Linked DNA regions of Homo sapiens: regions 1, 3, 4, 5, 6 and 7 are each linked to region 2. The links come from fine-mapping of genetic effects on plasma protein levels. A gene starts in region 2. Each other region holds a variant in brackets. All regions are shown on one strand. Distances are between the middles of the regions. Region 1 overlaps GDPD1 (glycerophosphodiester phosphodiesterase domain containing 1). Region 2 holds the start of MPO (myeloperoxidase). Region 3 overlaps RNF43 (ring finger protein 43). Region 4 overlaps TRIM37 (tripartite motif containing 37). Region 5 overlaps TSPOAP1 (TSPO associated protein 1). Region 6 holds the start of CLTC (clathrin heavy chain). Region 7 overlaps MPO (myeloperoxidase).

What was found. PIP is the chance, under the fine-mapping model, that this variant and not a neighbour inherited with it causes the effect. Protein levels are from antibody-based Olink assays in UK Biobank. Linkage for the fine-mapping came from a reference panel and not from the study's own genotypes, which makes the PIPs less certain.
Region 1: its variant is fine-mapped to the plasma level of the MPO protein (UK Biobank, PIP above 0.99).
Region 3: its variant is fine-mapped to the plasma level of the MPO protein (UK Biobank, PIP above 0.99).
Region 4: its variant is fine-mapped to the plasma level of the MPO protein (UK Biobank, PIP above 0.99).
Region 5: its variant is fine-mapped to the plasma level of the MPO protein (UK Biobank, PIP above 0.99).
Region 6: its variant is fine-mapped to the plasma level of the MPO protein (UK Biobank, PIP above 0.99).
Region 7: its variant is fine-mapped to the plasma level of the MPO protein (UK Biobank, PIP above 0.99).

The regions. Positions count from the first base shown.
Region 1 is chr17:59,269,112-59,273,462 of GRCh38, forward strand. GDPD1 (glycerophosphodiester phosphodiesterase domain containing 1) reads left to right here. Exons shown (of 10, transcript NM_182569.4): 8 at 1,825-1,884; 9 at 3,674-3,725. Among named protein-coding and RNA genes, the nearest start is that of GDPD1, 51 kb to the left of the region's middle. The variant G/T (reference allele first, on the strand shown) is at 2,571.
Region 2 is chr17:58,278,699-58,283,020 of GRCh38, forward strand. It overlaps MPO (myeloperoxidase), which reads right to left and starts at 2,237. Exons shown (of 12, transcript NM_000250.2): 1 at 1,907-2,237; 2 at 1,668-1,761; 3 at 1,141-1,316; 4 at 825-948; 5 at 599-728; 6 at 310-516. The coding sequence starts at 2,060. RefSeq lists enhancers at 1-585, 3,170-3,187 and promoters at 2,227-2,821, 2,227-2,367, 2,760-3,161, 3,046-3,271, 3,317-3,517.
Region 3 is chr17:58,402,916-58,406,915 of GRCh38, forward strand. The region is part of intron 2 of RNF43 (ring finger protein 43); the gene reads right to left. Among named protein-coding and RNA genes, the nearest start is that of RNF43, 13 kb to the right of the region's middle. The variant C/T (reference allele first, on the strand shown) is at 681.
Region 4 is chr17:59,046,612-59,050,962 of GRCh38, forward strand. TRIM37 (tripartite motif containing 37) reads right to left here. Exons shown (of 24, transcript NM_015294.6): 15 at 2,567-2,782; 16 at 1,072-1,208. Among named protein-coding and RNA genes, the nearest start is that of TRIM37, 58 kb to the right of the region's middle. The variant C/G (reference allele first, on the strand shown) is at 1,732.
Region 5 is chr17:58,307,928-58,311,363 of GRCh38, forward strand. TSPOAP1 (TSPO associated protein 1) reads right to left here. Exons shown (of 32, transcript NM_004758.4): 19 at 2,909-3,286; 20 at 2,585-2,824; 21 at 2,040-2,231; 22 at 614-1,453; 23 at 1-14. Among named protein-coding and RNA genes, the nearest start is that of TSPOAP1-AS1, 16 kb to the right of the region's middle. RefSeq lists an enhancer at 1,608-2,307. The variant G/GTCCTCCTCT (reference allele first, on the strand shown) is at 1,319.
Region 6 is chr17:59,616,393-59,620,743 of GRCh38, forward strand. CLTC (clathrin heavy chain) reads left to right here and starts at 3,503. Exons shown (of 32, transcript NM_004859.4): 1 at 3,503-3,781. The coding sequence starts at 3,740. RefSeq lists enhancers at 1,937-2,749, 2,587-2,636, 2,647-2,766, 3,217-3,566, 3,296-3,590. The variant G/A (reference allele first, on the strand shown) is at 2,187.
Region 7 is chr17:58,268,903-58,273,241 of GRCh38, forward strand. MPO (myeloperoxidase) reads right to left here. Exons shown (of 12, transcript NM_000250.2): 10 at 3,846-4,016; 11 at 2,753-2,990; 12 at 953-1,961. The coding sequence ends at 1,754. Among named protein-coding and RNA genes, the nearest start is that of MPO, 9.9 kb to the right of the region's middle. RefSeq lists enhancers at 3,353-4,339, 3,832-4,339, 3,959-4,339, 4,162-4,197. The variant T/G (reference allele first, on the strand shown) is at 1,963.

The sequences.
Region 1 (4,351 bases), 990 kb after region 2:
CATGGTGAAACCCCGTCTCTACTAAAAATACAAAAATTAGCCGGGCACAGTGGCAGACACCTGTAATCTCAGTTACTCGGGAGGCTGAGGCAAGAGAGTCGCTTGAACCCCAGAGGTGGAGGTTGCAGTGAGTCGAGATGGCTGCACTCTAGCCTGGGCGACAGAGCAAGACTCTGTCTCAAAAAAGAAAAGAAAAGAAAAACAATTTAGTCAGTACTCTTGTGCTCAACTTCTATTTCATGCCTGTTTTCCAATTTCAGTATCTTAGTGATAAACATGTTTATTTTATTTATTCCTAAATTATATTTATGAACATCTTTGTAGCTGTTTCTCAGACAAAACAATAGAAAACGCTTCTTGTCTACCCCCCCCCCCAAAAAACACCCTATTTTATTTGCTAGATTAAAATGATCCCTAAACATTTATTCCTGGCTGGGCCAGGGGCTCCTGCCTGTAATCTCAGCACTTTGGGAGGCAGAGGCAGGCGGATCACCTGAGGTCGGGAGTTCCATACCAGCCTGGCCAACATGGTGAAACTCCCATCTCTACTAAAAATACAAAATTAGCTGGGCATGGTGGCGCACATCTGTAATCCCAGCTACTCAGGAGGCTGAGGCAGGAGAATCGCTTGAACCCAGAAGGTGGGGGTTGCAGTGAGCCGAGATAGCGCCATTGCACTCCAGCCTGGGTGACAGAGCAAGACTCTGCCAATAAATAAATAAATAAAACATTTATTCCTAAAGTACTTAGCTTTCCTCTGGCCTGGAGTGGACTGTTTGCTCTATATTTATCTTCATATGTTCCTTTTAGAAGCAAATATTGTTGAAATACAGACATAAGAACAAACTCCACAGAATTAATATTTTCTCTAAAAAGTGATTATGGATTAAGACACAAGCAGGATATATTTTGTGTGTTTTAATACTTCTATAGAAGACAATGGATATTTTCTAAGACAATATAGTGATTGTTTAATGAGGTAATCAGTATTTGAGCTACTAAATCCCTAATATTCCTGAAATTGCAACCAGGACTTTCCACTGGGGCCAGAGTTAGGGAAAAAAGGACTTGTACTTTATTTTGTACTTTTTTTTTTTTTTGAGACAGAGTTTTACTTTGTCACCCAGGCTGGAGTGCAGTGGCGCAGTCTTGGCTCACTGCAACCTCTGCCTCCTGGGTTCAAGCAGTTCTCCTGTCTCCGGCTCCTGAGTAGCTGTGATTACAGGTGTGCGCCACCATGCCCGGCTAATTTTTATGTTTTTAGTAGAGACGGGGGGGGGTTTCACTATGTTGGCCAGGCTGGTCTGGAACTTCTGAACTCAGGTGATGCACCAGCCTCAGCCTCCCAAAGTGCTGGGATTACAGACATGAGCCACCATGCCTGGCCTACAGATATTTTAAAGGAAAGGAAAACACGTGGTAAACTGCTCACTTTGATCTATAATACAGTTCCGTTGTATGTTTAAATTTGCCACATACTAAATTGTAGGAGACAAAGCAGGAGAAAGATTTCACCAAAAAAGAAACGAGATATGAGCCTAGGGCACCAGGGTCTCTGGAAAGACAATATTTATTTATTTATGTATGCATTTATTTATTTATTTATTTATTTATTACTTTTGAATAGGGATGGCAAAAAGTTAGCTTGAGACCAGTGCAAACAGAACCCAACTGGCCTTTATTTTATTTTTGTCCTTTTTACAAATATTTTTTGAGAATATACAAAGTACAAGGCACTGTTTTCATTTTTGAATTTGTTTCATTTTATCACACTGATATATTTCTGTGTTTCTAATTTGTAATTCAAACTTTATTTTACCCTAGGCTAAAAGAACCACACACCATGTCCAGAAGTCAAAAGTTTCTCATCTGGCTTTCTGATCTGTAAGAATTTTAATTTCTTAATATGCAAGTTATTGCTTCAGCTATATTTATTAAATACTACCCTTAAAATGTTGTGCAAGCTTTCCACATGTAATTTGTAACAAGGACAAATTGAGCACCTGCTATGTAAAATGTGTATGAATCATTTAGAAATATCTTAATTACTAATCACAAAATCTTAGGAAGAATCTTGAGAGATAATGTCCTCCAACTTCATGAGAAAACTGAGCCCCCATATACCCAGTTAAATTATTTACTTGGGGTTATCTAGCTAGTTAGTAGCAGAACTAGGTTAAATAACCATTCCCTTTAGCTTACTTGCTGGTGAAAAGAAGTGTAGCAACACAGTATATATAAAAGTGTATGTTGCCTACAGCACATTTCTCAGAAAAATTTGCTCTGCACCAAGACTTAACAGCAGAAAGGAAATCCCACCTATAGAGTGGATATCAACTTTAAAGTAAATGCCTTAATTTAGACATGATGAGTTTAATTTTAGTAAAAATCACTAAATAATTGTACTATATTTTGCTTTAAGATGGAACCTTGAATGCTTAAATATTTTAATAGTCCCAAATCACAACTTTTTATTATTTAACGCCTTTTCTTCTTATTTTATTTTATTTTATTTTATTTTATTTTATTTATTTATTTATTCATTTTTTGAGATGGAGTCTTTCTCTGTC[G/T]CCCAGGCTGGAGTGCAGTGGTGTGATCTCGGCTCACCGCTTCCTGGGTTCAAGTGATTCTTCTGCCTCAGCCTCCCGAGTAGCTGGAACTATAGGTGCCTCCCACCATGCCTGGTTAGTTTTTGTATTTTTTAGTAGAGATGAGGTTTCATCATGTTGGCCAGGCTGATCTCGAACTCCTGGCCTCATGTGATCTGCCCACCTCAGCCTCCCAAAGTGCTGGGATTACAGGTGTGAGCCACCGCGCCCAGCCTTAACGCCTTTTTCAAAGAGTCTTAAACAATTAGTTTTATCTTTTCTCTCTGTCAGTGTTTATTCTTTTTTGCTTTATTCTTGATTTAAGCTCTAGTTTTCAAGGATGCCTTTTTTTTGTACTCAAGTAAAACCAGGATGCATTTTTTTTCTTTTTTCAACCCTATTAACTGACAAGATGCATTGTTAATTGGTGTTAAAAGCACATGATTTCTAGTTTCTGTTATTTAATCATTCTAATAGACATAACAGAATAGAAATAATGTCTTTCCAGTGCAATGAATTCCTATCTTGCTCAAGAGGTTTGTATTTTGAAAGTTCACTTATCAGTGAGTTACTTGGAACAAAAAAATATTTTTTCCCTAGACATAGGATAGTGTAATTAATGGACATAATGCTTCTAACATCGCTTACAAAAGACTAATCCATTGTGTAATGAACTATGATGTTATAGAAATTGACCTGCATTTGTTGACTTATTTTAACTTGGAAAGTTAGGAACACACATTAATAGTAAGAAAGGAAAGCCAGCTCTTTCTCCTTCTTCAGCAGTGAAAATGAGGCAGCCTCTTTTCCATTGAGCTGTGCCAACAAGAATGGGTCTCCTATGAATCTGGTAGCAGCAAGAAGTAGAAAGGAGGTTCTGGTTGTCCACCAACCAGCAGCCTGCAGTGAAAGGAGATCCAGCAATTAAGACATAAATTAATTCACAACAGCTATTATTACTTGAGACCATTTCTTTTATTGCTGAAGCATTGGGATTAAATTAAACTGGAATTACTAAACTCTAAATTGACTAAATTAGGACTAAGGACTAAATTCCTAAATCAGTTTTGCTTTTTCTTTTCTAGCTTACTAATGAGGAAAGCTTTGTTTGACCACCTAACTGCTCGAGGCATTCAAGTAAGTTTCTGGAATGATGCATTTTGGAAGCAGCATAGCTCACCAGTTTAACACAAATATAAAGGGCAAGAACTTTTAACTGACTTAGTTTGGCCCTTGACTCTGATGCTGCTGCTTTACTGATCCACAAATGAGGACCTTAAGCTCTTCCTTACACTTAGCAATAAAGCATTGGCATTTCTGGATCTAGATTCCTCTTATGTACAGAATAGCTGATGCCAGAGGGGTGGGACAGTGTTTGTGTGTGTGTATATATATATAAATATATGTATGTATATTTCTTTTTTTACTTTTTTCTTTTTTTTTTTTGAGATGGAGTCTCACTCTGTCACCCAGGCTGGAGTGCAGTGGTGCAGTCTTGACTCACTGCAACCTCCACCTCCCAGGTTCAAGCAATTCTCATGCCTCAGCCTCCTAAGTAGCTGGGATTATAGGCATGCACCACCATACCTGGCTAATTTTTGTATTTTTAGTAGAGACTGGGTTTTGCCATGTTGGCCAGGCTGATCTCGAACTCCGGACCTCAGGTGATCTGCCTGCCTTGGCCTCCCAAAGTGCTGGAATTACAGGCGTGAGCCACCGCGCTCAGCCAGGAGTCTGTATATTTAACAAGCACCATGAATTTT
Region 2 (4,322 bases):
TCTCCCAACCTAACAAAGAGCCAGTGATTCCACCAACAGGACTCCTGTCAGCCAAGGAGGAACAACCCTCTCTCCCTTGGCCTGCCAGAGGCAGTGAGCAAATGGACGGCCCTGGCTGCCAGCTGGCTGAGCCCAGGCGCAGGAAGGAGACAGGTCATAGCTGAGCAGCCAGTGCTGTGGACACAAGGGAGGCAGGGCCAGCCTTCCTCAGCGTCTGGGAAAGGAAACCTGGGCACAGAAGGGAGATGGCCCCTTCCAGAAACAATCTCCCCTCTCCCAACCCAGGCAGTGGGCGGGAAGCAGGGCCACCTTGAGCGGGAAGCAGGGCGGCTGCTGAACGCAGCTGGTCTCGCAGTTGACGCCAGTGACGAAGGAGGCCCGGGCGGCCGGCTCAGGGGTGAAGTCGAGGTCGTGGTCCAACAGCTGGCCCCATTGCATGAACATGAGTGAGCGCTCCTGGTCCGGAGTCAGCTGATCAGTGGGGAAGCGCACGATCTCGTTGGAGACCGCGCGAGCCTGCGGGACACGGAGATCAGCTGGCGCCTGGGTCCGCGCACCGCGTGGCCGGGCCTCGCCCCCTCTGCCCGCCGGCGCTCACCAGAGCCACCGGGAAGCCGTTGCGCTTGACCCCGGGCGTCCAGCCGTAGGGAAGAGAGAAGCCGTCCTCATACTCCGCCGGCAGCCAGCGCACAAAGGCACGGTTGGAGGCCCCCAGCGTGGGGCTGCGTCTGCAGGGGAGGACAGGGCGCTGACACCGGGAGGCTTGTGGCGTCCGGGACGCCTCTCTGAGCCCGGTTCCTGCAGCCACCCCCAGCCAGCCGCACCTGTTGTTGCACATCCCGGTGATGGTGCGGTATTTGTCCTGCTCCGGGCAAGTCACCCCCACGTCCTGGTAGGCGCAGCCGCTTGACTTGGACAACACATTCAGCTGGGCGGGCGTCAGCACATCTGCCGGGGGAAAGAACAATGGGGGAGCTGAGCCGCCTCACTTCCTATCCCAGGCAACCTGAGGCTGAGGAGCCCTGGAGACTCCTGAGACTCCCTGGAGGAAGAAGTTGAGGGGATCACTGAGAGACGGCTGGGGTCCCTAGGAGGAGTCACTAGTGGAGCAGGGACCTGGGGTGTGATGGGCAACAGTACCAGTGACATTGAATGGCCTTCGCCACAGGGACCGCAGCTTCCTCTCCAGCAGGTCTAGAGCCACGTGCAGGTAGTCAGCGGCCCTCACCGCCGTCCTGGTGGCTGCCACCGGCTGCTTGAAGTAGGATAGGAGTTCCATGGGGCTGGCTGAGCCGCTGCGAAGCCGCTGCTTGATGCTGCTTGGAGAAAGGAGGAGTGAGGGCCAGAGAAGGGATACAGACCCACCCAGCAGAGCCCCAGCCCAGGGGCAGACATGCAGGACCATGCAGGCAGGCCCACGGGTGGGAGGAAGGCTTCCTTTTATAAAAAGGATATGGACCTGGGTGTCCAGACAGAGGCAAGGCTTTGGGAAGGATGGCTTTTAAGCTGTTCTCCCATCCAGAAACACAGGGACAGACAGACAGAAAGGGAGTCCACATGGGTCCCCATAGTCCCCCTCTCCCACCTTCAAGCTCCCTGCTGCCTGCTGCTTCTCTGAAAGGCCTGGGACATCCTTGCCCAGAGCTGGGCAGTGCCTCGTGCCCCACCTTTCCCGCCGCTCCTTGTAGGCCTTGTCCACCAGCTGCTTGGCCTCCTCCATGGAGCTCAGCACCAACGAGGTGTCCACCTCCCCCAGGACAGCTGCCCAGAGCAGGGATCACAAAGTCAGGAATGGGCCCCAACCCCCTATCAGGCCCCAGAGCTAGGAAGGCCTGCTCTGAGAAAAGGGGTCTCTGGAACACAACCACCCCAACACACCATCTTCTCCCACCTTGGGAACTGTTACCTGGAGCAGCACCTTCAGAGGGCTGGGGCGTGGCCAGAATGGCCAGGAGCCCTGCTAGGGCCAGAAGCAGCTTCATCTCTGCAGTGAGACCCCCAGCCCAGCAAGGTCCTAAGTCCACCATGCATCTGAGAGAAGAGAAGAAGGGAACCCCCATCTCTCTTCTCCTGGGCTGCTCAATCCCCCTTTGTACCTCAGCCCCACCTCAGAGGGCCCTGTCTATGGATAAAGCCAGACCTCCTTGAGGGAGGGGCTCACTGCTCTCTTATCCCCTTGCCAGCTGCTGTCATCCAGCTTCCAAGGACCCCACCTCCACAGCTCACCTGATATTGTCAGCTCCTCTTAGCTCAATCTGCGCTTTTATGTCCTCTAAGCTGGGGGTGGGGTGAGGTAGAGGAAGGTCTGATCCTGGAGACTGAACTCTTTCTCCTCCCCCACTGGGGTTGGAAGGTACACACAGAGGGGCCCCTGAAATGGGGGGAAGGGGCAGGAAAGGAGGGGCCAGCATTGTCCCCAGCCTTTTTTTTTTTTTTTTTTGAGACGTTATCTTGCTCTGTTGCCCAGGCTGATGTGCAATGGTTCAAGCGATTCTTCTGCCTCAGCCTCCCGAGTAGCTGGGATTACAGGTGCCCGCCACCACGCCCTAGCCTCTAGCCACATCATCAATTATTTCCTTAGGCAAGAAGTAATTTTTGTATTTTTCCTTAGGCAAGAAGCTAATTTTTGTATTTTTAGTAGATACAGGGTTTCACCATGTTGGCCAGGCTGGTCTTGAACTCCTGACCTCAAGTGATCCACCCGCCTCAGCCTCCCAAAGTGCTGGGATTACAGGCATGAGCCACTGGCCCCAGCCTGTCCCCAGCCTTTGAATTTAGCACTACCAGCCCAAGATTTCTCAGCTCACCATTGTGTGCCTATACCAGTGCTTGTCCCCAGGGGATACACACAACTAACCCCTCTGAAATTCTGGTTACACTGGTTATCCAGGGTTCCTTTGAAAGGAACAAAAGTCAGGAACTGGTAGCCCAAGGAATTGCAGGGAATAGAGTGCCCCCAGGGAAGACAGGAGGATGAAAGGGAGACCTGGAGTAAAGATGACCCAATTGGCCTCAGGTGGCCATCCCCCACTCCAACAGTAACCTGCATCCAACAGCCACCCAATGGGCAGCCTCTGGTTCTTGGTGGGGCTAAGGGGACAGGAAATCTGGCTGGAGACCGTTGGGCTTCACAGGAAGGAGGACCCTGGGGACTGTGGGCGCAGGACCAAGATAACTTCCTCTATCCCTCCTCACTCCCCTTTCTTCTTGGCTTCTGGTAGAGGGCTGTCTCCAAACTCCTCCTCCCCACCACCATCTGCTCCTGGATTTCAGGAACCAGGAGAGAGCAGAACTGGTTGTGGTTAGTGATCAGTTAGGTGATGCAGCCCAGGGCCTCTCTGGGACAGGATCAGTGCAGTTGGGAGGACTTGGGTTAATGATTCAGAATAATTCTGAAACAGAAGAGGATATTTCTTGCTTGAGAAAGCCCAGCAAAAGGGCCACCAATCTCAGCAGGAAAAGTACTACGACTTTTGACTGAATCAGTCTACCTCTCTGGGCCCTGGTCAGGCTGAGCTCGTGCCAACCATGCCTCCCATGTCCCATTTAGGTTCCCCCTCCTACCTTCAGCCACCTTCCCGCCACCCACTCTTTTTTTTTTTTTTTTTTTTTGAGACAGGGTCTCTCACTGTTGGCGGAGCTGGAGTACAGTGGTGCAATCTCGGCTCACTGCAACCTCTGCCTCCTGGGTTCAAGCAATTCTCCTGCCTCAGCCTCCCAAGTAGCTGGGATTACAGGCGCCCGCCACCATGCCCGGCTAATATTTTGTATTTTTAGTAGAGATGGGGTTTCAACATGTTGGCCAGGCTGGTCTCAAACTCCTGACCTCCTCCTGATCCACCCACTGTTGGGATTACAGGCGTGAGCCACCGCGCCCGGCCCACTCTTGTCTTCTATGCCCAGACCACCTCTTGGCCAAGGGACAAGGGACAGCAACACCCAGAATATCTTCCCAGTGTGTCCAGGGATTCTGTCCCCTGCTGAGAAGGGGAACCAAGCTTTTGCCCTGCCAGTGACTTGCTGTGTGTGAAGTTGGTCGAGTGGCTCTTTGTGAATCAAGCTCTAGAATTTTAGAGGCTTTTGGAAATGATTTTTCAATCCTTTAAGTAATATAATTTTCACTGATGAAAAGTTTGAGAACACGAGTATGCAAAAATAAAAATAAATCAAAATTACTCATCATCAAGTGAGATTGTGGGTACTTTTTTCTTTCAAGGTTTATCATTGTCTTCACATAAATAAACAATAGGAAGGAAAATAATTGCCCATAATCCCACCACTCACCAATACCTCATTTAAGAATTTGATATCCTATATGTAAA
Region 3 (4,000 bases), 120 kb after region 2:
CCCAACATTTGGTGATATCAACTGTCCTGGGAGAAACCCCAAACTCCCAAGAGTCAAACATTGGTTTAAAAAAGGAGTTTTTTTGGGGTGGGGGGGTAGGTTGTTGTTTCGAGTTTATTAGTAGTGTTTGATGTTTCCAAACACCAGTTTTAAAAGGGAAGATGGGTTGGGGGACCTCTTCCAGTAAGCGTGTACCTCAAGAACCAAACATACATGAATTAAGTCCAGATAAGGCAATTCAACTCATTTGTATCTTACTGAGGCACATCCAACCAAGGAAGAATAGAGACTTAGTTATATTAGGCTCTCTCCCAGCTCTGAGATGAGTATATTCTTTGGGGGACTTGCTAATGTTGCAAGTTTGCATTCAAAATAAATTCTAGGCACTCACATAATCCCCCAGTCTCCTCCAAACTTTCTTTGATGTCCAACAACTAAGGACAAGGATCTTTGATTATAAAACAATTTCTTTGGTTGGAAGAAAATTCTTTGCAGGGCGTGAACAGCAGGAGAAAGAAAAGGTTTTTCTGAAGTGCAAACTAGTTGGAAACCCCCTGGGGAAAGAATCTGATTCCCAGTCTTTGAGAGGAACAGGCCTGCCTGTACAAGTTGCCTCTGCTGAAGGCCTCTAAGAAGGCGCTTTTGTGTCTACTGTATGGCCCTCAGCAACAGCACGGCGG[C/T]CCTTCTCTTTTTTTTTGCCAGCGGAAGTTTTCCAACTCTGGGAATACACAATGCAGAAAGTCACGGTTTAATAACAAGGCATAGTTACTAATCAGATGGCCCCATTTCCACTCTTCCCAGTTGCCTCCAGATGCTTACATACTAGAGCTCTATCCCCCTCACCCCATGGGTGAACACCCACCAGCTGCTCTGAAATCTTATTTTTAGTATAAGTATTCAGCTTATCTCTAATAATTCACTTCACAGAGTACTTAGGATCAGAAGCATCCTACTCCTTTTACTTTCATCCAGACTGGTTCTAGGTTGTCTCTGGCTCTTTCAGGTTTTTCCAAAGGTTAGATTCACTTAGGTGCAGGTTAGTGATTGAAGTCAGTGTGCTCTGATCATTGGGACAACCTTGACGAAGCATTTACAATAAGGGTCCTCAATCTACTACAGATATTTTAAAATATGAAACTCCAGAGAAAGGCTCCTTTTTTGAGTGTGTTAACTGGAATGCAAAGACAGTACAGGACCAGAAGACTGGGAGTACAACTGAGTCTCATGCTTAGTTCTGCTACCTATTTATTGTAAGACATTAATTTAGTCAGATTTTTTTCTATCACCTACCAAACAAATTTTGTCTTTGATGTCCAACAACTAAGGACAAAGAAAAAGAACTAAATAGGCAAGATACATGTCCCTTTAATATATGAAATCTATTTCTAGAATAAGCATAAACTCTAAAAGTTTAGAGCTGGAAAGGATCTTAAAGATTATTTAGTTCTCCCCCAACTCTACACCAACAGATGAAAGATTAAGTGACTTGCTTTTACTTAAAATGATCATAAGGTGCCTAGGGACTTTTCATATACCCCAAGGGGGCAACTCAGTAATCCCAAATACTCACCAATGATAATTTTTAAATGTTTAATGTATGTCATAGAGTTTACTAACTTTAGAGTAAAATAACCTAATGTCACAGTGGATCGGTACATTCTTCTTAAATGGTTCTCTATATGCCTCATATCATACTAAAATCAACACATTTTAGGGAACAGGAATAACACACATTTATGACTAAAGTCAATAATAAGAAAATGGTACTAGAAACAATTTTTGCTAAATAGATATGATATTCAAATACTCTTCACCTTCTACATAAAAGGTCTTAGTATTTATTTCTTCCCTTATGGAATGCAGTTTGCGAAGAATTAAAATCAAGCTAGTTGAGATAAATTCAAACAAAACTTCCAATATGTTGAATTCTGTTTAAAGCTAAATTTACTGTTTTAACTAAAATTTAACAGGGACTGATTGGTACATTTTAGAAAGTCAGTTTACAATCTGAAAAAAAAAAGCCATGGTATCTAGTCATTCTAGACTCCTAAAGAAAATGCTAAAGATGAGTATTAAACACACAGGAATATAACAACCTGTAATTAACTGATAACAGTAAAAATTTAGAAGGTATGACTGGGTTGTAGTACTTCTTTTTTTTTTTTTTTTTTTTTTTTTTTGAGACAGAGTCTTGCTCTGTCGCCCAGGCTGGAGTGCAGTGGCACCATCTCGGCTCACTGCAAGCTCCACCTCCCGGGTTCATGCCATTCTCCTGCCTCAGCCTCCCGAGTAGCTGGGACTACAGGTGCATGCCGCCATGCCCAGTTAATTTTTTGTATTTTTAGTAGAGACGGGGTTTCACCATGTTAGCCAGGATGGTCTCGATCTCCTGACCTCGTGATCCACCTGCCTCGGCCTCCCAAAGTGCTGGGATTACAGGCGTGAGCCACCGCACCCGGACTGTAGTACTTCTTTCTCTAACTTTAAGCTACTTGAAGTTGCCTGGGTTAAAATTTAATATTTTTTCATTTGTTTTTTCTTTAATCATAGGGAATCTGAGACAGAATTACCACAGTCATTTGAATGACTCTTGAAAAAATGAAAATCAGCACTTTAGGCCAGGAATGGTAGCTCATGCCTGTAATCCCAGAGCTTTGGGAGGCAGAAGTGGGAGGATGGCTTGAGCCCAGGAGTTCAAGGTTATAGTAAGCTCTGATGGTGCCACTGCACTCCAGCCTGGGTGACAGAGAGAGGTGACAGAGAGAGAGACCCTGTCTCTAATGACAGAAAGAAAGAAAGAAAGAAAGAAAGAAAGAAAGAAAGAAAGAAAGAAAGAAAGAAAGAAAGAAAAAGAGAAAATAAATAAATCAGCACTCTAATGCATTTATGCCTACACCTACATCTGGCATTCAATACATAATGCCTCCTGCTGTTTAAGTTGATTCTCCTCAGTTGGACAAGGCTAAGGTGTTGTGTTGCTCTTTGAATTACTATAGTATCTGTCACAGAATTTGGTACAAATAGGAAAACCACATTATAAGGCATCTAGAGAATCCAGTGCCCCTTCTAGTCTTGGTAAGATTCTTAGCCTAGACTTTATAAAGAGGTGATATTGCTCTGAGAAGATCCAGGACTACAGACCACCTGATGTGCAGTGATTCTGTGGCAGAATAAATGACACATGCACCACGTAAAGTATTGCTAAACTGTGGTGAGGTATTTTTGGTCTGTTCACTTATTTTAAAGTATGCCTGTAGTTGACTAGGGATCAAAGAGGAAAGAGACCCTGCGGCAGTCTATATCTTCTTAATGGAATGTTCAGGGGGAAATCTCTGCTGACATGTGCTTTTTAATTTCCCTGCAGTGACCCCAAAAGGTTTATAATAAATAAATAAACTATGCTAAAAATATTGGCCAGTAAGATATAGCAGCAGATTGGAATTCTTTGATAAGCACTAATCTGAGTTCAATTCTTCATATATAAAATGAGAAGACTGGACTGATTGTTTTTTCTAGCTTGAAATTTGATGATTATATTTCACAAATGGAATATTCTGCCACTTTTCCCTCCCCTCCATCAAAACTGTATTTTACTCTAAGAATGGAAAACTGAATAGGACTTAATTCCAATATAGAGCCAATACAGTCCTTCAGAAGTTAAAGAAACTTGACCACAAGAATTTTAAAGTCAGATCATCAATATAATTCCAGGTAGAAGATATTAAAATGAGGGAACACAAAGCCTAGATCATATAAAAGATGTTTTTTGTTGTTTTAAAGTAGATAATACAAAAGACTGTAGAAAATGGTTTGGGGGAAAAAACGAATGGAAATCTATACTTTTTTTTTTTTTTAAAATAGCAAAATAAGTAGACTTATAAGGCCTTTAGTCTCATCTGAATTATTCTACAGAAGTAAAATACCAACAGTGTTTCTCAAATGTCATATATTTATATATGTATAACAATACCTTTTTGATATACTAGCACGCACAAAAGTG
Region 4 (4,351 bases), 770 kb after region 2:
CTGCAAGCTCCGCCTCCCGGGTTCACCCCATTCTCCTGCCTCAGCCTACCAAGTAGCTGGGACTACAGGCGCCTGCCACCACACCTGGCTAATTTCTTTTTTGTATTTTTAGTAGAGACGGGGTTTCACCGTGTTAGCCAGGATGGTCTGGATCTCCTGACCTCGTGATCCACCCGCCTCAGCCTCCCAGAGTGCTGGGATTACAGGCGTGAGCCACCGTGCCCAGCCGAAAAACAAATTTTTAAAAAAGTAACCCAGATTGGCCAGGTGCGGTGGCTCACGCCTGTAATCCCAACACTTTGGGAGGCCGAGGTGGACGGATCATGAGGTCAGGAGATCAAGACCAACCTGGCTAACACGGTGAAACCCCGTCTCTACTAAAAATACAAAAAATTAGCTGGGCGAGGTGGCGGGCGCCTGTAGTTCTAGCTGCTCGGGAGGCTGAGGCAGGAGAATGGCGTAATCCGGAAGGTGGAGCTTGCAGTGAGCTGAGATCATGCCACTGCACTCCAGCCTGGGCGACAGAGCGAGACTCCGTCTCAAAAAAAAAGGAAAAAAAAAAAAGTAACCCAGATTGAAGATAACTAAATCGATTTAACAATTAAATGCAACATGATCCTGACAAAGGACATTACTGGCAAATTTTTAGAAGGTTACAGTATTACATCAATGTTAATTTCCAGATTTTGATAACTATTCTATAGTTATGTAAGAATATCCTTGTTTTTAGAAAAGTACACAATGAGAAGTATATTCGATCTCAAGTGTTTCAGAAAAAATTATATACAGAGAAATATAAAGCAAAATATTCATAGGGAATGAATCTGTGTGAAGGAAACATGAAATTCTGAACTTTTCTTAAGTATAAAATAATTTCAAAATTCAAATTTAAAAGTTAAAACACAAACAAAAATTATTGGCTAAGAGCCCAGAGATTAGAGAGAGAAAACTGACTATTGATTCAATCTTTCAAAAAAGTGCTGAATATCCCTACATTTAAGTGTGAGTTAGTTAATATGCTTCTAATAATTACCACTTAAATGCTTTACAGTAGTAAAGTGGGAAACTCACATAGTTTCTTCATCAATATCATTTTCTTCTGTATTACTTGTTGCTGTGGAACTAGCAGAGGAACTGCTGCCATCGAGCTGATTTACTTCATCCTCATAAACAAGATCCAGATCCAGATCTCCATCTGAAAGCTCGTGCTAGATCAATGCCAAGAAAACAAGACGTCTATTCCAAATGTTTCTACTCAGTTGATCACCCCATCCAGCCCATAAACCAAGCACCAAAGAATAATACAGTTTTCAAAAATCTATTTTCTGCTCCTGTGCCTCAGCTGCTGAGCCCTGTAGAGAAAAATCACACAACCACACTGACTGATATCATTTTACTAACTTATGCGTGCCGCCTTCAGCTGGGCCCTCAGTGTGACTGGAATCCTTCACATATTCCACATCAGCTTCCTCACAGAGTAACGTTTCAAACCATCACTCCTCAATTCTACCTAATTTTACCATTATCAAGGTCATTAATTAACACTGTCACCTATCTGCACAGAAAAAAAATACCCACTATTAAGCAAAAACTTCCCCAACTTTTCAGCTGCCTTACCTGCAAACTCCACCCTTCCTTTAACTCAGTTTATCAAAGGTTAACTGCTTCACCTGACTGCTCCATTCCAAACCCTATTATCTCTAGTTTATCAAAGCACTTAATCTGTGCATT[C/G]TCTCGACCCACTGGGTCCTTCATTTTAACTTAAAACTGAAGTCTCTCATCTTAAAAATTACTACAAAAAAACCAACTGTCTATGCATCCCTTCTTATGTAAAAATATCAACTACTTCTTGAACTCTTATTCTGGATTCTGACTGTTGTTTAGCTGGGATAGAACCTGGCTAGCTACCGAATCCTAAATCAGTCTACCTACGTAAGTAATGATAAGGCATGTACTAGTTTCAGTGAATGAAAATAGAACACCTTTTTTTTTTCTTTTTCTTTGAGACAGAGTCTTGCTCTGTCTCCCAGGCTGGAGTGCAGTGGCACAATCTTGGCTCACTGCAACCTCCGCCTCCTAGGTTCAAGTGATTCTCCTACCTCAGCCTCCCAAGTAGCTGGGATTACAGGCAAGCACCACCACACCCAGCTAATTTTTGTATTTTTCGTAGAGACAGGGTTTGGCCATGTTGGCCAGGATAGTCTCGAACTCCTGACCTCATGTGATCCACCCACCTTGGCCTCCCAAAGTGCTGGGATTACAGGTGTGAGCCACCGCACCCGGCCAGAACACATTTTTAAAATCCACAATGTATGGTAGTTTAGGTTTTAAAATGTGTATCACGGTTTGTTTTATACAATGTATTGTTTTTTTCACAACCTTGAAATGCTTTGATTCAACAACTTCTGACTTATTAACATTTACATAAGGGCATACATACATTACTAATGGAAATCAATGGACAATATTTTTAGCCTACTGTTTTAGCACATAATATGTTAAAAGCCATGATGCTACTGTTTTTTTTTAATCAAACACAAAAATCTAAAACTGGCCTCATTATTACATGATAATCTTCATTCTGAATCTTCTCCTCATCTTCTTCATCCTCTTTGGCCTCTCTTACAGAAGCTGTAGTAGGACCACCTTCGAGAAGCATGTCAGAGCATGCAGACTTCTTAGCTCGTGTCTCCAGAGCATCATCATTTTGGGGGCTAAGATGGTTATCTGGTGGTGACAAATCTCTTGACTTCTGAGTTCGAGACAGCTCAATAGTAAGTCTCTTTTAAAACAAGAAAAGCACAAATATTAGCCACAGCTCACTGGCACAGTAAAAGATGTCTCAAGTGAAAAAAAAATGCATCCAGATGTTTCTAAAACCATTGCTTTATTTATTTTTTGAGAATGGTCTCACTCTGTTGCCCAGGCTGAAGTGCAGTGGTGCCATCATAGCTCACTGCAAGCCTTGAACTACTGGGCTCAAACGATCCTACTGCCTCAGCCTCTCAAGTGGCTGGGACTGGAGGTGTGTGCCACCATGCTTGGCTAATTTCATTTTTATTTATTTTTAGAGACGGTATCTTGCTATGTTGCTCAAGCTGGTTTTGAACCCCTGGGCTCAAATGTTCCTCTGGCCTCGGCCTCCCAACATGCTGGGATTACAGGAATGAGCCACCTCACTTGGCACCATTTCTTAAACCATTTCTCTGAATCCCTACTGCCTTTTATTTATAAAAAAAAATTGATGACAAAGATAAACTGCCCCATTTATGCTCATCCTCCTTCTTTCATATCCAGCCTAAGCTAAACATACAATTAGCAAACAGTATAGTGAATACAGGCAGTTTTAAATAGCACATTTAACATGAAAATCTCTGAAAGCATGTATTTATTCACATTTTCCTCCCTGACCTATTAACGACTCTCAGCACTCCAAACCTCCTGCCACACCCTAACTTCCTAAGGGAAATGAAACATTCCTTAGTTTACCACTGTAAAATAAAAATTCATCAATTAATCTTCCCCAGTGCTCATTCAACAATAGTAAGAGTTCAAGATGGGACAACTTTTAATTGTGCTATAGCCTAGAATCCTCTAAATCCAAGATAACTTGTGGAAGAGAAACTAAGTCACTGACAGAAACACAAACAGCTTACCTCAAACTACAGCCACACTGTTCAAAACAACTTTATGCAATGATGGAAATGCTCTAGATTTGCAGTAACCAATGCAAGCACTTGAAATGTGGCTACTGCAACTAAGGAACTAAATTTTTAATTTTAATTAAGCTAAATTTACAGACCAGGCACAGTGGCTCACACCTGTAATCCCAGCACTTTGGGAGGCCAAGGCAGGCAGACTGCTTGAGCCCAGGAGTTCAAGACCAGCTTGGGCAACATGGAGAAACCCATCTCCACAAAAACAAAAACTAGCCATGACACATGCTCGTAGTCCCAGCTACCTGGGAGGCTAAGGTGGGAAGATCACCCGAGCTTGGGAAGTTGAAGCTGCAGTTAGTGGAAATTGTGCCTGGCAACAAGAGTGAGTCCGACCTGTCTCCAAAATAAAAAAAAATAAAAATAAAGTGGCAGGGCGTGGTGGCTCATGCCTGTAATCCCAGCACTTTGGGAGGCCGAGGTGGGCAGATCACGAGGTCAGGACATCGAGACCATCCTGGCTAACACTGTGAAACCCTGTCTCTACTAAAAATACAAAAAAATTAGCCCGGTGTGGTGGCAGGCGCCTGTAGTCCCAGCTACTCAGGAGGCTGAGGCAGGAGAATGGCGTGAACCCAGGAGGCGGAGCTTGCAGTGAGCCGAGATTGCACCACTGCACTCCAGCCTGGGCAACA
Region 5 (3,436 bases), 29 kb after region 2:
CCGGTCTCTGTTGCCTGCAAAAAGAGGGCAACAGATGGCAAAAGTAACACACCATCCCTCTGGTGGGCTCGTGCTCCCCCAGCTCTGCCCCATCAGCGTAAGCAGCACAGCAGCGCAGGAGCACAGCATTCCTCTCCCGGAGCCTCGGCCCAGCCTGCTGGAGACCTCAGACACCCCCACAGTGGGAGGGAGGGCAGGAGGGGAGGCCCCAGCCCCAGCCTGCGAGTAGATGAATGGAGTAGAGGGGACTGGAGTTGGCTGAGGAGCCCGCGAGAGGAGGGCCTCCCGTCAGCATCAGGGCAGGTAACCCTGGACATGGCATCACAGTCAGCGTCCTGAAGCCATTACTAGCTATGCAGAGGAAAGGGCGACCCTGCCCACAGGCCGCAACAGGCGACTAGTGATAGAATATTGTGCATCCCAGTCCTGATCAGCAGAAGCAGCAAAGCAGTGGAATGTGGGTGGGAGGAGGCAGGTGAGGGAGCCCGGAGGCCCGGCCCCACCTCTGCTGATGGAGGCAGGCAGCGTGGAATGGGAGCTGCTGGTGGGCAGCAAGCAGGGCCACCAGGTGGCAGCAGGCAGGGGCTGCCCAGGGCGGGGAGTGAGCACGGACCCGGGAGAGTGGCTCCTTGGCTCTGCCCGTCGCACTGCGGCCTCTCCGCTCTGGTTCCCCTTTCTCCCAGGCTGGGAGGCGTGGGTAGGGCTTGGGGCCTGAATTGGCCTTCGGAGGCCCCCTGGGCCTTCCTACAGTTGCTGTGCCCCAGGCCTCCCCATCTCCAGGGTAGCAGGAGCTGGTGATGCTGATGCCCCCGCTGCCCGCCTCCTGCTCATCCTCCGAATCATATTCAATGCTGATTTCCAAGCACTTGGGGGAAAGGCAGCTGGCCAGGCCAGGCTCCAGCGCCCGGCCACGGGAGCACCTCCGGGAAGGGCCCAGCCGGCCTCTCCCGCTAGCCTCTAGTCCAGTCCTGGGGCCCTCAATTACGGGGAGGCCACCCCTCTCCCGTGTGGGGCCCAGTCGTCCAGAGGCCTGGGGCCCATTGTTGCTGAGAAGTCGGCTGCAGTGTTCTCGGGGATCTGGAGGCCGCCTGCGGCTTGGGGGCTTCTCAGGGGAGCCCCCTCCTCTCCTCCGGCTGCTTCCACCAACTAATCCAGGCATGTCTTCCAGGCAGTCTCCAGCCCTGGAGGACTCAGGAGACAAGGGACACTGGCCAGGTCTTCGGGGCTGACCACTGTCACAGCCCAGCCCCAGCAATGCAGGTTCAGGCGGGCCAGGGTCTCGGGAAGAACAGCCTGCCCCTGACTTCTCCTCCTCCTC[G/GTCCTCCTCT]TCCTCCTCTTCCTCTTCCTCCTCCTCCGGGATGCTAAAGAGCTTCTTGCTACAGAACTGCTGGAGGGGCAGCTCCAGGATCTGCTCCAAGATCTCCTCATCGCTGTCAGTCTCACAAAAGGGGTCGGGCTGGGACTGGTGGAGGTGGGGAGGTGGGAGTAGAACACAGCAGGGAAGAGAGATGCGTGGGGAAGAGGAGAGCGAGCTGCGATCTTTGCCCTCAAACGAAGGCAGGGGTTACGGACAACCCCACAGCCCTCCCACGGCTTCCTCCGAGAGGAGAGAACCAGAGGGACGGTGGCTGGCCCAAATTCACACACATATCCAGTGAGAGCCAAAGGAAGAATTAGGGAACACACTCTAGGAACCATCACCAGCCCCTGTGGGACAGGAGCATTGAGGAGCAGGCCTCCCCATCCCCTCCCCAGAAGCTACCAGCACAAGGATCTTAGGTGGCACCGGCCTCCCCTGGCCAGGGCGCTGTATCTGGTGGGCTGGAGGGAGAGAAGGTACAGAAATGAACTCCTCCCCTTCCCCTTTCTTTCCAGGAGGGCAGGGGCCAATCCTGGGGCACTTCCTATCTTCTGCTTAGGACAGGGCCCAGGCCACAGACCTAGAATGTTTCTGGCACTCAGTGGTGGTCAGAGCACCTGCTGACACACAGTGGGGAGGCCCCGGAGTTTGAGGCCTGGGGCCCAACAGCCCATCCCTACCCCGTTACCTTGGCCCCATTCTCCCTGATGCTGTTGCCAGCAACCTGCTTCTGGAAGGAGCAAGTCCTGGAACCCAGCTCCTCTTCCTCCTCCTCCTCCTCCTCTTCCTCTTCCTCCTGGATGTCTGACAGGTCTGAGTTGCGGCCGTGGTCCACGAGGGAGTTCACCAGATGAACCCCAAGCTCTGCTGTGTCCTCCTTCTGCAAGAAGTGAGGCAAGGCAGGAGAGATAAGGACAGTGAGGGGGCACAGGGGGTTCCAGGCAGGGTCAGCCCCAGCCACAGTAACAAGGGTCCTTTGGCAGAGGGAGAAAGAGCCATGTCCTAAATGGGGGAGGCACACCATGGCTCAGGGGCAGGGTGGGAGAAGGGAGATGGGAGCCACATGGGACAGAGAAATCCTAGAAGAAAAACAGACACATAGCACAGCCAAAGGTGTGAGAGCAGGACCAGAGCAGAGGACAGGCAGAGAGGGCAACTGGATTTGCGCTGGCAAAAGGTAGGGAGACAGGCCTCAATTCTCTGAAGTGACACAGTGTGTCCCCAAACCCCTACCTCAGCCCTGGGCCTCAGCCCAGACCCTGGGTCTCCTCCTTGGCACATCTCGGTATTTGGCGCCTGCTGGGCCCGTGCTCCCTGGGTGGAGCTGGAGGCCGGACAGGCCTCTCCTGCAGTCCACTCGGCCTCCTGCTTGGCCAGTGAGGGAGCTGCGGGGCCAGGGTCCTTCTCACCCAGGGTAGATGTGCTGGCTGTCCTCTCCTCTGAGGTGCCCAGCACTGCTGCCCCAGCCTCCTCCTGGAACAGAGAGCACTGAGGAAGGACCCAAGCCCAGGTCCCTCTGCCAGCCTGCACCTGCTCCCCTCTCCCCAGACAGGGTACCTGGGAGCAAGGTGCTGGAGGGTCCTCGTGGGACCCTTTTGCCATCTCTCTGGAAGGGCTTGCAGGGGGTGCTCCTGGAGGCTCTTGAGTTCCAAGGGGAGCAGGGTGCTGGAGAGGAGAGCTGGGGTCTCCAGGCCCTGGGGAGGCTGAAGCAAGGGGCGCTCTGGCCTCTGGGCTTGGGTGCGGTGAGGGGCAGGAGACTCGGGCTGGCAGGCTGGCCGGAGCCAGGGCGGGAGTGATAGGAGCCGGGATGGAGTCCGCCGACTCCCCGTGGGGCGACATGGTGCGCACGACCACCTCACGACACACCTGCAGCAGCTGCAGCTGGGACAACTCCACCAGTACACTGCCTGCCGTGGGTGAGGCCACCTCCATGATCTGCAGGGTGGAGGGGGCACAGGATGGGAAGCAGAGGCTGAGACAGCCAAGCGTGAGGATGCACTGACAGCAGTGGCAGCTAACTGACAGCAGTGGCAGCTAGCATTACGCCAGGTACTGTGCTAAGCCCTCTGCATGGCCTATCTCATT
Region 6 (4,351 bases), 1.3 Mb after region 2:
CCCTGTCTCTACTAAAAATACAAAAATAAGCCAGGCATGGTGGCTGGTGCCTGTAATCCCAGCTCCTCGGGAGGCTGAGGCAGGAGAATTGCCTGAACCCAGGAGGCGGAGGTTGTGGTGGGCCGAGATCACACCATTGCAGTCTGGCCTGGGCGACAAGAGCAAGACTCCGTCTCAAAAAAAAAAAATTGTTCTTGCTTTGTAAATGCTGCTTTCTTTTCTTCATTTTGGAGCGGGGAGCCTTGCCGATAGTCAGTGACTTGTACATTTGTTTACTGGCATTTGATAGGCTGCTCCTTATCTTGCATGAAAAAATAAAGACCTAGCCAGTCTAATCCTGCTGGGATTCATATCAGTGGCCCCAGGGGGTTGAGATGCTTCAAAGCTACTGTTTAAATGGCAAAACCAAGTATCTTACTTGGATAATACTAAAGTATGTCCTTTATGGCTTTATTGGAATCTGAATTGTAAACATTTGGTACAGTGGATTAAAGTTCTGCTTTAAAATTAATTTCTGAGTATGTGAGATATGCCTTTTCTTTGTGACTTTTGCAGTGCAGTGAATTCAGGCTGTTTTTAAAAGGTCAAGTTTTTAAAAGGCAGGGGCATTAGTGCTAGGGCTGCTTGAAGATGAACAGCTAATGGAGAAATCCTACAGTGAAAGGGGTTGTTTTTTTTTTTGTTTTTTGTTTGTGTTTTGAGGTGTCATTCTATTGAGTGTTTATATATATATATATATATATATATATATATATGTATATATCTCCATCCTAATTGTTGGCATAACATTAAAATTAGTGACACAACACAGGTTTCTTGTATAGGTTTTCAGAAACTAGCAGTCCTCAAAATAACAGACCAAGCAATGTAGTTTTTGCTAATGGCACTTGCTGTGACTCATGATAGTCTACTGTTGATGAGCATTCCAACTAAAATAGCTTTCACTTCACCATTGATTAACATGGCTACCTTGCTAAAACATTTTCTGAAACCAAAAGCTAGAGTGATCATTCATAGCATTGTCTTATTAAAAGACTATGTCATACTGTATCGTAGAAAAAGCCATTCTGGGTAGTAGGATTTGCTTCCTGGTCTATTAGGTTATCTGTTCTCCCTTCTAACTTGAGGTAATGTCTGAAAACAGTGCCATTCAGGTATTGCTTAGGTAACTAAACCAGTGAAACCAGTGAAACTGCCTTTATACTGTTACCAAGAACAGCAGACTCCCATTAAAAAAAAAAAAAAACTCTTATTACCCTACTCAAATTATTCATCTTTAAAAAGGCATAGGGTTTTTTTTTAATGTTTATCATCTTGACTTTTTTTTTCTCTTGAAAATTTTTGGATTAATTTGAAGATCATTTCAAAATGACCCAGGATATCACGATCTATTTTTCCTCTTCCTAAATTATTTCTCAAAACAGTGTAATTTCTATGTGTGATGACGTAGCAGTCACTAACAACCTCAGCGCACTTTTTGGTTAGATATTCCACTCCAAATAGCTAAAATCAACTGCTTTTGGGATTCTAAATGTACTTAAAGTTACAGGGTCTGTATGAAAATGCCAGACACTAATTAAATTTTGGTGGCCCATTCATGATACGGCTCTTTTATCTCCGGATTCTGAGATTGAAAAGGTGACTTGATCAAGCTATTGAATTACTGTAATAAAACAATTACTCCCTTAGAATTTTAATTTAGAATTTGTCTACTTCCAAAAAGGGTTTAAAGCAGTTATTACTAGACTGGCATTAGGTTATTTCAAATGTTGCGGAACAGAGGATCTTCGTGTATTTAGCTTAACAATACAAAAAGAAATTTTGCAAGCATAAATATTCACTCTTACAACATGGTGGCAAGGCTTTTCTTTGCAGAACAATCTTTGCCCTCTTACCTGCCAGACTCTTCTCTCATGCTCAGTATGTGAGACAGTTAAGTAAAGGGAAAAACACTAAAAGCAACTAAAATGATTGGCAAACTTCTCACTGTAACCTAAACTGCTTAGCATACAAAACTATCGTCTACCCAATAGGGTTTTATGTCCTTTAACTGAAAAGGACACTAAAAATAATTATTGTGGACTTGAGCTTTTCTCTTTCGGCGGGGCGGGGGGTGGGGGGGGAGAATCACCTCTCTTACAAAGATAAAAGGCACAGAACTAACGTCTTTCATCCTTTATTGTATT[G/A]GTGCGATTATGAAATATTATTATGGCTTATACTTTAGCAAGAAAGTACCAGAAAGGTTATTATTAATCGACAATGAATGCCGTTGATACCTTCATGCTCTTTGAAGACAGGATGCTCCGGCTTTGAAGCGCTACATTTCTACATTGCTAACCTACAGGAACCTATGTTGAGGTGGTCCCACCGAAATACACGGCTAATAGTTCATCTCTTTCCTCCAGGAACCTTCAGGTTTTTTTTTGTTTGTTTTTTTTTTGAGACGGAGTCTCGCTCTGTCGCCCAGGTTGGAGTGCAGTGGCGCGATGGAACCTTCGGGTTTTACTAAGCATCCTTACCCTAATTATCTAAATCTTTGAGACGTAAATTATTTGATGTGGCTAAAAATCCTCCTGCTAGAATTTAGGTCCAATCCTTTAATGTTCGGATACTCAAATTCTTTAACGAAACTGATCACTGAGCTAGGCCGACACAAGTCCGCCAAAATGTCCGCAGAAACGTTAAGAAAAGCTGTCATAAGGCCAGCTTGAAAGACATCATAAAAGGCCTTCGCTGTCCTTTGAGTTAATTATCTAACACCCGAAGAGAGTGCCAGTTCTAGTTAGAATCCGCGCGTCAGGTTCTCCAACAGTCAGAAGGGCTTGTGTGAGGGCAGGGAAGATTTTAAACCCCGTTTCAGGCCCCCTCCCTAGGCTGTAGGAAACCACCCACTCTGAAGCCCGGCGGGGGAGGAGTGCTGCAGCCAGCTGCCGAGGGAGCGCTCTGCGGCGAGGCCGTTTCCCTGAGTCACGGAGAGGGCGGGAGGCTGCGCCCGTCTGCCCCCGCCACGTCCTCCTGTGAGGGGCTCAGTCGAAACAGGCAGCGGTCGCAGGGAAACGAAGCGGCACCCGTCATGCCTCAAGGTGGCCCAAAAGCCTCTTCACTCCCAGGAGACGCCGCATTTCCTTAAAACGAGCTCTCCATTTCTGGCAGCAATCAGCCGACCCTTCCCCATCAGTATCACGTGCACCTGGAAGTACGTGGGTGGGACCTAAAGCGCCCACGGAAGTGACGTCGGTCGCCCCGAGTCGCATGATGTGGCAAAATGAAAAAAAAAAAGTGGGGGGAGAAAGAGAAGACTGGCGAAAGTGATGAGTCTAAAAAAGTAGTCCCTCCGGTTCCTCTGTTTCCCCCCATGTGGCGTCAGGAAGCGAGGCACCGGGCGCACTGCGCCCCGAATTCCTGCGCCCGCCGCGCGCGGCGCTCCGTGGAGGGGTACATAAGGCGGAGGGGGTGAGGCGACTGGGCGGAGTTCTGTCGCCGGGATCCTTCCGCTGGGCTCAGCCGTTTCCGGAGTCTGCGCTGCGCCCGGTTCCGCCATTGCGGCTCTCCTGGCCCCTGGAGCCTCCGCCCCCGACCCGAGCTCTTTCGTCTGCCTGCCAGTTTCCTGCGTCCCCGGAGAGGATCCTGCTGAGCCCAGCCTCCCCCCTCCCCTTCTCCTCCTCTCCCTTGGAGAGCCCGGGCAGCCACTGCCCCGCAGCCCCAGTGACAGGAGGAGACCATAACCCCCGACAGCGCCATGGCCCAGATTCTGCCAATTCGTTTTCAGGAGCATCTCCAGGTGCGGCCGGGCCCGGGCTGGTGAGGGCTGTGGAGAAGGTGGTAGGAAGGATGGAAGACGCTGGAGTCTGGGCCCGAGCAGTATCGGAGCTGGAGGGGCGGGGGGGTTGTCGGTGATTGGGGTAGGTGGAGGAGGGGGCACTATCTTGGAAAGCTTAAAATATTAAATGATGTGGGGCTTGGATGGAAAGGACAGGAGTTGGGGTGCAAAGAGCTGCAAGGACCAGGCCTGGATCCAAAGGCCTCTCGATCTTGCTTCCTGGATGGCCAGAACTGCGCGTACAAACTCTCTCCCCATTTTATTCATTTCATTCATTTGGGTAGGGGAGTGGGAGGGGGATTCTCCCTTGTTTCTACCAGAGCAAGGATTCTTATCCCCTGGGCCAGTGCGGGGCTGTCACCTTCCATTGCTCTCCTCTTTCCCTCATCGTGTCTGCACCCAGGAGTTGTGGGGCGGGTGGGTTGGGGAGGAGCAACCTTTTTTTTCCCTCCCTCTGCGGCTCTCAACTGAGAAAGGCACCTTCTCCGGTGGTGGGGGTTGGGGGTGGTGGTGAGGCGGTGGCTTTTCTCT
Region 7 (4,339 bases), 9.8 kb before region 2:
GATTAGCCCAACCAGGGCCTCCAGATCCCCCAACTGGTGGGGTGGGAGTGGGAGACACCCAGTCATCCTGTGGGAAGAGCCCAGGAGCCAGATGACCTCGGCTGCAGCCTGGCACTGCCACCCACTTCTTTAAGGCCTCAGACGAGTCGCTTCACCCCTCTGAGCAGCCCTCTCCTCATCACAGAAATGAGGACAAGCAGTATTTTTGCTGCTTCTTACCATGGTGAGGTCCTAACGTTACCAGGGGCCCCATGAGTACATTAGACCCCACCGTCCTACACCACTTCCAGCCCCCTCCCCATATTTGAGAAGGAAGAGGAGAGGGAGGGAGTCCACCAGTCAGACGCAGGGTTCAAGCTCCAGGCAAGACTACTAGGGAAATACACTCCTTCCCCTCCCTCAGTGCTGGCCCTGTCCTCTGGGCCCAGCCATCTGCTCTCCCTTCTCCAGGAGCCATGTGCAACATGAATGAGAAGGAGTCCACTGTCTTGAGGGCCTCTGAACCCCTGTGCCAGGCTGCTGGGATGCAGGATGCAGAGGCCCCTCTTGTTGGGGAAGGGCCTGCCTCCTCACCAGGTCTCTGTACTTTCTCTCCTACCACACAGCATTTTGTCCCCTCCACTTCCTAGCCCCTGGCACAGGCCTGACACAGAGTGAACACATAGCAAACGTTTGCTAGAGCAATGAACAAACATGAGGGCTTGGTGACCACAGTTCCCTGCAGGGTGGCAGGGGTGGAAGGTGAGGGAGGAGGGTCTGCACCGCATGCCCCGGCCCCCAGGCTTCCAAGAGATGGCTGCCCTCCACGTACGGATCTCAAAGGAAAACTCCCCAACATCCTCACCCTCGGTTCAGAAACACAGGGCCCTGAGCACAGACCACACTGGTTCAAGCTCAGAGCCCAGAGTAAGCCTCTGCAAAAGCGCCAGTTCCTCCTCAGACACAGACAGAGTGGAGGTCCCCATCAGCGGTGCCTTTATTATCATAAACATTGGGAGCAAATAAATGGTACAGAAAGGGCAACAGGCCCAGTTCCTCTTCAGGAGAACTTCAGTGAATAAGCAAGAAATCAGGGTGAGGAAGAAAAAGGGGAGCCATGGCCTGAGCCTGGCTGGCTGGGCCCATAAGTCAACCACACAGCCCAGCTGCAGCTGGCTTATCCCTCCAAGGCACCACTGGTCCAGCTCTGCTAACCAGGACACAGATGGCATCTTGGTATCTCTTTCTTGCCTCTATATGCTTCTCACGCCTAGTACAGTGCCTTGCATGTAGTAGGTGCTCAATAAATGAAGAACCAGAGGATACAAGTGGGCCCTCCAAGAAACCATGACAGATGTAATTTACAAGGAAGAAAACTCTTGTTTAAGGAGGGTAATTTGCTCAAGGTCACATAGCTAGCAAGCCACAGAGCCAGGATTGGAACCCAGGCAGTCTAGTTCCTGAGCTGTGCTCCTCACCAGTCCGCTCTGCTGCCTTCCACATACTCAGTATTCTCATCAGCACAAACACACACTCACATAAATGGCACATACACATAACCCATGAAACACTCCCCATGTTCAGACAACACACACGCATGAAAAGCCAATTTATATACTTCGCACATACATGAGCACACAAATGAACGTCTAGTCACTCATTTTCTCAGCTGCACCCAGAACAGGGCTGGGCTCATCTAGGGCAAGGAGATCTCCGTGGTTCCAACTGGCCAGCCCAGATATACCCCTCACTGCTGCACCCCCTTACCTGGCCTCTAGGAGGCTTCCCTCCAGGAAGCCAGGTTCAATGCAGGAAGTGTACTGCAGTTGACAAAGTCCCGGGGATATGAGTTGGACATGAAGATGTTGTTCTTAGACACGGTGGTGATGCCTGTGTTGTCGCAGATGATCCGGGGCAATGAGATCTGGGCCAGGGCCTGTCGCTGCTGCATGCTGAACACACCCTCGTTCTCCCACCAAAACC[T/G]GCATGGGGAACACCCATGGACACTGTGCCCAAGGATATTCTGGGCTGGCAGGGCATCGATGGGCTTGTGCTGCTCCCAGGATATAACAAAGCCACAACAAATGCCACCTGGAAGCACAGGAGGGCCCCAGGCCCTTGGGCAGCCCAGGGGCTTTCACACAAGTGATGCTCCACTCATCGTGCAGAGTAAAGCACAGCTGCCCAGTGGCCTTTCCCTTACCCCTAGCCCGGCGGCCTCCAGGGCACCATGCTGGAGGGGGACCCGGGCCCACACACACTCCTGAAGCCCTGTGCCCTGGCCAGGAGCTGCATCCACAGGAGTGGAAGAGAATCTTGGGGGTGGTTTATAATTCGCCCACCCAGAGAGGGGCACCTTTTTCTAATTTTCCCAAAGGTGCAGTACAGGCTAAGCAAGAACTAGACATGAAGACATCAGGACCACGAGGAAATGACACTAAGGGGAGCTGTGGGAAAGCTGGGAGGGGACTGCCCACTGGTGACTGACACCCACATGGTGGCACAGTGAAACCCATGGGAAGAAGTAGCTAAGGGTGGCACTTTTCTATCTTCCACCCTTTACAACCAGGGGTCCAGGTCTTTCCTTGCTGCACCCCCAACAGGTTCAGGGCACATTAGGGGCACTCCAGGGCATCTGGAGGATTCCTGGAACACACTGGAAAATTACTGACTCCCTCCAGTCCTTCAACTGACAGGAGGAAATTTGGGCTCCAAGAGAGTCAAGGATGGGCCCACAGCCACCCAGCGGCCCACGACGCCTGCCCCTCCTCACCGATCACCATCCCGGAGCTTCCTGAACTGGGTACCGATGATGCAGGCGAGGAGTGGGCCCACGCGGCCTTTGCGCTTCAGAGGCTCGGACACGCCGCCCATCCAGATGTCGATGTTGTTGGGCGTGCCATACTGCTCCATCAGTTTCCTCGCCAATTTCAGGTTCCTCAGCACCGTGCCCAGCTGGCCCACAGTTTCAGGCTGCGGGAGCCCACAGAAGCGCCTCCAGGCATTGTATCCTGCATGGGGGAGGGGACAGGTGGCTATGGGCAGGTCTCTCTGCTTCAAGGTGGGGAGGTCACTGGAGACAGCAGGGAAGATTCACATATCGCCAGCAGCCCAGAAAACCCACCTTCCCAACACAACCAAGGTCATAGAGGGAGGGAAGGACCTCACCTCAAGGAACCCTGTACCTTTGGCTTAGACCAAGGGGCACAACTGGGCCTCTCTGGGACCCTCTCTGTCTTTCTCTTGCCCTCCTACCATAAGGCAAACCCTAAACTGCCACAGTTCCTGCTGGGTCCAAGAATAGGGACATCTCCTTGTCCCCCTCCAGAGCAGCCCGATGTGTCTGTCTCTGACCCATGAGAGGTGAAATGTGTCTAGAAGCCTCAGCCACATGGGCTACCCCATAACATAGGCACAGGCTTTGAGGTTAGGCTAATCTGGCTTCAAATTTCAGCTTTGCCACTGACTTGGCTAGAGAACCTGGCCAGGTTCTGAATCTCATCAAGCCTCAGTTTCCTCATCAGTAAAATGAAGGCAATAATAATCTCTTCCCCCAGAGTTAACGTACAATGAAGCAAAATGGAATGATGACAGAGACAGATTTTCAGACTGTGGGTTATCATTATGATGACGATGCCCCTAATATGAGAATTACAGCATGCAAAGGAGGTTGAGAGGAGCTGGAAATTTATCAGGTGGGTCCGGGAAAAGGCAGGGGCCTGGCCTCAGGCTACTTCCTGAGAGCAAAGTGCCTCTAATATGCTTTGGAGAGGGCAGGGACCCTAGAGTGGGAAGGGGGGTGATGGGCTACCTAGGAGGCAGCTCAGGGGAGGTGAGCATCAGGGGAGACTCCTGCAGCCCCTCACCTGGGAGGCCGTGGTCCCTGCTGCGCTGCATGTTCAGAGCAGGCAGGTCCAGCCCAATCCTCATGACCTGCTCAAACAATCGCTCCCGGATCTCATCCACTGCAATTTGGTTCTGACGATTCAGCTTGGCAGGGGTGGCCATGAGGCCCCGGAGGATGGGGTCAATGCCACCTGGGGACCAGAGGAGCCAGGTCAGGGGAAGTATCTGGCTCAGTATCAGAGCTCAGATTGGAGTCAGGGACAAGTCCAGGTAGGGTCAGGAGGATTCGAGAAGAGGGCTGGGCACAAGCAGTGCCTGGTGCCAAGGTGGTGGCCCCAGTGAGCAGGTCCTCACCGGTCACTACATGACCCCAGGGACATATAGGTCTCAGGAGATTATGCCATTCAGACTTGCAAGATTGGGATGCTCCCAGGCCCTGGCTTCCTGGGTCACAGCGAGCCACAACACATAGGAAGTAGCCAGTTCCCTCTGAGGGCCATCCCCACCCCACTGT